Homo sapiens: one gene and its partner. The protein of the gene in region 1 purifies or fractionates together with the protein of each later gene. This does not show direct contact. Each region holds a gene or a part of one and is shown in the gene's direction. Other genes may lie near its edges.

Evidence for each region. Proteins that work in one complex are often made in the same cells at the same time.
Region 2: the proteins of MOGAT3 (region 1) and IL36G purify together in Homo sapiens (affinity purification with mass spectrometry; one large-scale study listed by BioGRID and IntAct). This does not show direct contact.

What each region holds. Positions count from the first base shown.
Region 1 is NC_000007.14:101,198,237-101,202,215, reverse strand, and holds the start of MOGAT3 (2-acylglycerol O-acyltransferase 3), read left to right. Parts: upstream 1-1,179; 5' UTR 1,180-1,361; coding exon 1,362-1,470; intron 1,471-1,700; coding exon 1,701-1,808; intron 1,809-1,911; coding exon 1,912-1,982; intron 1,983-3,385; coding exon 3,386-3,590; intron 3,591-3,850; coding exon 3,851-3,979. UniProt on the Homo sapiens protein: Catalyzes the formation of diacylglycerol from 2-monoacylglycerol and fatty acyl-CoA. Also able to catalyze the terminal step in triacylglycerol synthesis by using diacylglycerol and fatty acyl-CoA as substrates.
Region 2 is NC_000002.12:112,981,006-112,983,581, forward strand, and holds part of IL36G (interleukin-36 gamma), read left to right. Parts: exon of another isoform or gene 1-538; intron 539-2,576. UniProt on the Homo sapiens protein: Cytokine that binds to and signals through the IL1RL2/IL-36R receptor which in turn activates NF-kappa-B and MAPK signaling pathways in target cells.

The sequences.
Region 1 (3,979 bases):
GCGTGGCCCTGCAGCTGTTCCTGGGCCGCCGGGGCCTCCCGCTGCCCTTCCGCGCGCCCATCCGCACCGTAGGTGAGCCCCGGCCTCCGCCCCGCGATCCTGGCCCAGGGCCCGCTCCCTCCCCGTCCCGGGTTGGGGCCACCCAGACTGGCCTTTGGCCACCGCGCCAGCCCTGAACTCTGTTCCCGCCTATCCCCAAGGAGGAAAAGAGGAGGAGAACCGGGGATCCCAGCCCAGATCGCCTCCCGTCCCGCCCGCAGTGGGGTCGGCGATTCCCGTGCAGCAGAGCCCCCCGCCCAGTCCGGCCCAGGTGGACACGCTGCAAGCGCGCTACGTGGGGCGACTCACGCAGCTCTTCGAGGAGCACCAGGCGCGCTATGGTGTCCCCGCCGACAGACACCTGGTCCTCACGGAGGCGCGCCCCACCGCCTGGCCTCGCCTGTCCGCTGGGTGACTGCAGGTGGGGAAGTGAAATTAAAGACTGGCGGCAGGGCACGGTGGCTCACGCCTGTGATTCCAGCACTTTGGGAGGCCGAGGCGGGTGGATCACTTGAGGTCAGGAGTTCGAGACCAGCCTGGCCATCATGGTGAAACCCCATCTCTATTAAAAATCCAAAAAAAAAAAAAAAAAAAATTAGCCAGACGTGGTGGCGCGCCTGTAATCCTAGCTACTCGGGAGGCTGAGGCAGGAGAATCGTTTGAACCCGGGAGGCGGAGGTTGCAGTGAGCCGAGATCGTGCCACTGCTCTCCAGCCTGGGTGACCGAGACGTGTGAAAAAAAAAGAAAAAAAAGAAAAGAAAAGAAAAAGAAAAAAATTAAAGTGGGAAACAGACCTGCAGCCTGTGTGTGTTTGTGCATGGCGGGGGAGGTCCAGGCAGGGGTGGTGACCTTGACATTCCTGGAGATGCCCCGGACCAGGCCCTGCCCCCACCCCGACTGGAGGTCAAATAGTCTCAGCAGGGCTTCTGGCCCCTTCCAGCACCTGGGACCCAGTGGGTGGGGCTAGCCAGATCACTCTTGTCCACTCCAACATCAATTCCTGAGGCACTCGGGTGTCACCTCTCCCTTGCACACCCCTTACGCCTCCCAGCCCCACCCAGCAGCCAGCCCAGACTGGTGACTGACAGGAAGTTCAAAGATCAGGCTGAGAAAAAACCCAGAGACATCTGGGGCTCTGGATCCAAAGATCTCCCCACTCACACACCTACGGACACACGCTACTCTGGGAGGTGATTTGCGACTTAGCCAGGCCCCCAAAGCTGGGCTCCTGTAGGGAGAAAGTCTGCCCAGGTCCACATCCAAGCCTTCATCGTTTGTCCTCCGGGTTCTGGGATCCTGCTGGAAGAGGGGAGCTTCTGCAATGGGAGTTGCCACAACCCTGCAGCCCCCAACCACTTCCAAAACCTTGCAGAAGCAGCATCTAGAAGCAGTGGGCGCCTACCAATATGTGCTCACTTTCCTCTTCATGGGTGAGAGCTGGGGAGGCGTGGGTGCCTGGGGTCTGCCAGGGGAGTAGGGCTTGGAGGGAGAGTGGCTGGGCTGCTGGCTTGCATGCCTGAGGACAGTGACCAGGTGACTGGTCTGGGAGAGGGCCAGAGGAGAGAGCTGGTTGTTCTGAAGGGGAGGAAGGGAAGGGAGCAGCTGGAGGGAATGATGGAGTTTCAGAAGTGAACTCTTTTCTTTCTCTCCCTTCCCCCAGGCCCTTTCTTCTCCCTTCTTGTCTTTGTCCTCCTCTTCACGTCACTCTGGCCCTTCTCTGTTTTTTACTTGGTGTGGCTCTATGTGGACTGGGACACACCCAACCAAGGTGAGCTCCGGATGGGGGCCCAGGTAGCCAGAGATGGTGGGGACATGGGGGGTGAGGGGAGGTGACTCCGGGGGTTCGTCCACCAGTATCTCATTGTCCGCAGGTGGAAGGCGTTCGGAGTGGATAAGGAACCGGGCAATTTGGAGACAACTAAGGGATTATTATCCTGTCAAGGTGATGGGTCACCCTGCAGAAAAACTGCTTCCTACCTCTCCCCATCTCCCTCCCACACCTAGGAGCCCTTCCTTGTGCTGGGGCCTGAGCTCCCCGCTGCCTAAGCTCAGGCAGTGGGACAGGGAATGGATTTTTTTTTTTTTTTAGACTGAGTCTCCTGTCACCGAGGCTGGAGTGCAGTGGTGCAATCTCAGCTCATTGCAACCTCCGCCTCCTAGGTTCAAGCTATTCTCATGCCTCAGCCTCCCTAGTAGCTGGGATTATAGGTGCCCGCCACCATGCCTGGCTAATTTTTGTAGTTTAGTAGAGACAGGGTTTCAACATGTTGGCCAGGCTGGTCTCAAACTCCTGGCCTCAAGTGATCCAGCCACCTCGGCCTCCCAAAGTGCTGGGATTACAGCCTTGAGCCACCGCGCCCGGCCTGGGAGTGGATGATGTTCAAGAGCGGGGCCTTGGTGGGGCACCATGGCTCATGCCTGTAATCCAAGCACTTTGGGAGGCCGAGGTGGGAGGATTGCTTGAGCCCAGGAGTTGGAGGCTGTAGTGAGCCATGATTGCGCCACTGTACTCCAGCCTGAGCAACAGAGTGAGACCGTCTCTAAAAAAAAAAAAAAAAAAAGGCGGTTGTGGTGGCTCAAGCCTTTAATCCCAGCACTTTGGGAGGCTGAGGTGGGTGGATCACCTAAGGTCAGGAGTTCGAGACCAGCCTGACCAACATGGAGAAACCCCATCTCTACTAAAAATACCAAACAAATTAGCCGGACATGGTGGCACATGCCTGTAATCCCAGCTACTCTGGAGGCTGAGGCAGGAGAATTGCTTGAACCAGGGAGGCGGAGGTTGTGGTGAGCTGAGATGATGCCATTGCACTCCAGCCTAGGCAACAGGAGCAAAACTCTGCCTCAAAAAAAGAAAAGAAAAAAAGAGAGAGTGGGTGAGGTGGCTTACGCCTGTAATCCCAGCACTGTGGGAGGCCAAGGCAGGCAGATCACGAGGTCAGGAGTTCAAGACCAACCTGGCCAATATGGTGAAACTGCGTCTCTACTAAAAATACAAAAATTAGCTGGGCATAGTTTCGCATGCCTGTAATCCCAGCTACTCGGGAGGCTGAGGCAGGAGGATAGCTTGAACCGGGACCAAGAGGCGGAGGTTGCAGTGAGCCGAGATCGTGCCACTGCACTTCAGCCTGGGCTACAGAGCAAGACTCCATCTCAAAAAAAAAAAAAAAAAAAACCTGGGCCCTTAACCCTATCCTAAGAACCTTTAACTCGGAACTCTGCTGGGGTGGCCCTTGACCCTATCCTAAGAACCTTTAACTCGGAACTCTGTTGGGGTGGAGGGCCCCTCTTTTCAGCCGGTGTCTTGCCTTCCATCCTCCCTTCATCCTGCTCAACACCCCGAAGCTGGTGAAAACAGCAGAGCTGCCCCCGGATCGGAACTACGTGCTGGGCGCCCACCCTCATGGGATCATGTGTACAGGCTTCCTCTGTAATTTCTCCACCGAGAGCAATGGCTTCTCCCAGCTCTTCCCGGGGCTCCGGCCCTGGTTAGCCGTGCTGGCTGGCCTCTTCTACCTCCCGGTCTATCGCGACTACATCATGTCCTTTGGTGAGCCGAATGGGAGGAGGAGAACGGGAGGAGACTCCTGACCAGATGTTCCCCAGCCCCTCTGGGACCACCCCCCCCCATAATAAGTCCCCCACCCAGGACAGGGGCCAGCCTGAGCACTGCCCAGACTTGCAGTGAGCATTTGGGTAGGTTCCCCGCCTTGGAGATGGGGGTAGGGGGCTTGGAACTAAAGGCTGGGTGAGGGGCGGGGGTGCCGTGGAGGCAGATGGGAACTACTTTCCACCTCCTCCTGCCCACAGGACTCTGTCCGGTGAGCCGCCAGAGCCTGGACTTCATCCTGTCCCAGCCCCAGCTCGGGCAGGCCGTGGTCATCATGGTGGGGGGTGCGCACGAGGCCCTGTATTCAGTCCCCGGGGAGCACTGCCTTA
Region 2 (2,576 bases), on another chromosome or scaffold:
TTCCCCTAAAAACAACAATGAAGTGTTCTGGGTGCTAACAACATAGCTTAAAAAGAAAAGTAAAACAAAATTCTGCATTTTTATAAAACTTGATAAAAAATAGTTTTTCAAACTGTACAGTCACCAGAAGTACACAGTTATCAAAAATGCACACACTACACTTGGCATCTGCAGCACCTTCAGCTTTCTGTGCCTTCCCTGTTTTGGCATCTCTATTTTCTGCAGAGTTATTCCCCTCCTTGCCAGCATCAGCTTTTCCCTTTTTCCCTTTGGGTACCTTCTCTCCCTTCTTTGCAGGGGCATTTTTAGGCTTGGCCTCTGGATTTGGAGGAGCAGGTTTAGCAGACAACTTTGCGGGCCTTCTCTGTGGTTCGTCCTTCACCTTGGCTTATCTCCTTCAGCATCCCCTTCAGCCTTTCTCCTGGGCATGGTGGTGGCCACCCCAGCGGGATATAGGCACTGGATGCAGGATGCAGCATTGTGCGGGTTTTGGTCAGTCTGGGGGCTGTTCTTGCCTCTTCTTCACACTGCTCTGTCTTTCTTAACCTTTGATATATTCTTGGCCATCATTTCTTCAAGTATATTCTCACCCTTATTTTCCTTTTGGAATTCCTATTCATCCATCGTTGGAAGTTATGAATCTCACTTCAATATCTCACGATATCTCATCTAATTTTTTATACTTTCTATCCCTTCATTGCTTTTTAAAATTTTGGTGTTGCATCTGGAAGAATTTCTTGCTTTGCTCTGCCAGCTCATGGTTACATTTTCAGTGTTGTCCCTTCTGGAAATCATCCTTTTATAGCATTTCCTGAAATTTCAATCTTTACTCTTTTAATTCCCAAGCTCTCTGGTTTGTTCTTTTTTTATTTTTTAATGACTGTTTGTCCTCGTTCCACAAACTTCAGTTTAATTCAGTTTGATTCAACTCAATCCAATTCAATTAAGCGCATGTATGGGTACTTCCTGGCCTCTAGCACTGCGTAGATGCTTGAGATATAGCTGTGCACAGAATGGCAAAGAACCCTGACCATGTGGGGCTTGGATTCTAGTGAAAGGAGAGAAATGGCAAACAATAAATGTAATAGTAGGCAAATTTGTGCTATGTTAGAGGTCTTTACCTCTCCTAGAAAAATAAAAATGGTTACAGCAGGATAGATAGACCAGCAGTACCAGGAACACAGGCGGCGTCAGGCTGCAGTGGTGAATAGTGCAATAGGCATCATTGCCTAGGTGAGATGTTAGCAGGGAGTAGAAAGAGCTAGGGAAGTTAGTTAGCAGGTGTCTAGTGAGGGCACGTCCCAGGACCAGTGAGGACCGGTGTGCAGGAGTGAATTGAGGAATGAGTCCAGAGAGATAAAGGCAGACATGAAAGTCTTGTCCTTTGCAAGGACTCAGCCTTGCAATCTGAGTGAAATGGGAAATATTAGAATGTTTTGAACAGAGGAATGGCGTGAAGGGGCTTAGGTCTAAAAAGGATCTCTCTGGAGATCTTAGACTGTGGCGGGCAAAGGTGAAAGTCCTTCAGGAGACTTTGAGGTGGTCTAGGTGTGATTTGATGGGCCAGGAGATAGCAGCAGAGGTGGGGAGCAGTGAGTCAGATTCTGGTAGTATTTTAAGTGGAGGAAACAGGATTGTGAGTGTGATCAATAAAGTCAGGACTGAGAATGACATTTGCTACTTTGTCCTGTCAGCTAAGTCACCCTTATGTTGTGCGTTTGTTCTCAGATGGGGACTAAGAATTGACTGTTGCGTTTGGCAATGTGTGGGTCTTTGGGGACCTTGGCAGGAGCAGTGTTGGTGCTGTAGTGGGGGCAAAAGCCTGGATGGAGTAAGTTTAAAGGGAGGAATTACAAGAAAGGGATCAGAGACAGCAGATATGGACAGCGATTGCAGGAAGTTTTCTGCAAAGTGGAACTGGTGGCGGTGGTGGGTAAGCAAAGTAGTTATTTTGTTTAAGATGGTAGAAATGACAGCAAATATGCTGATGGGAATGACTAAGAAGAGCAAGCAAAATTGATGGAGCACAAGAGAGCAGGGAGAACGGCTAGAGGGATGTCCTTAAGTTGCAAGTGCAGATAGGACCTTTCACCCAGTCCTCCTCAAGCAGGGAGGTGCAGATATGGGTGCCATGTGCTGGGAGCCCATGTTATGGTGTGGTTTGTACAAGTTGTCTTCTAATTACTTCAATTTTCTCAGTGGGTAGGAAGTTGAAGGTGATGATGGAGGAGGTATGGGAGTTTCAAAGGAGGAAGCATTCTTCCATTTATTAAACAGCAAATCTCTGTTGAGTAGAATGCTGGGGGCTTTCCTCTGTGTTGAGGAATACAGTGATGAACAAGTCTAACAATCATTCTGGGATTGATGAATAAATACGCTAAGTTTAGATAGCAGTTGGTACTAATGAAGAAAATAACTCAGGAATATGATCGCAATGAGTAGGAGGGAGGATTCCAAACCGATTTTGGCTGGGATGGAATGTTCAGTAAAGTTCTCCCCAAGGAGGAGACCCAGGTGATGGGGAGCAGCTGGCCTTGGGAAGATGTGGGGCTGGTGTGAGGTGCAGGGAGAGTAAG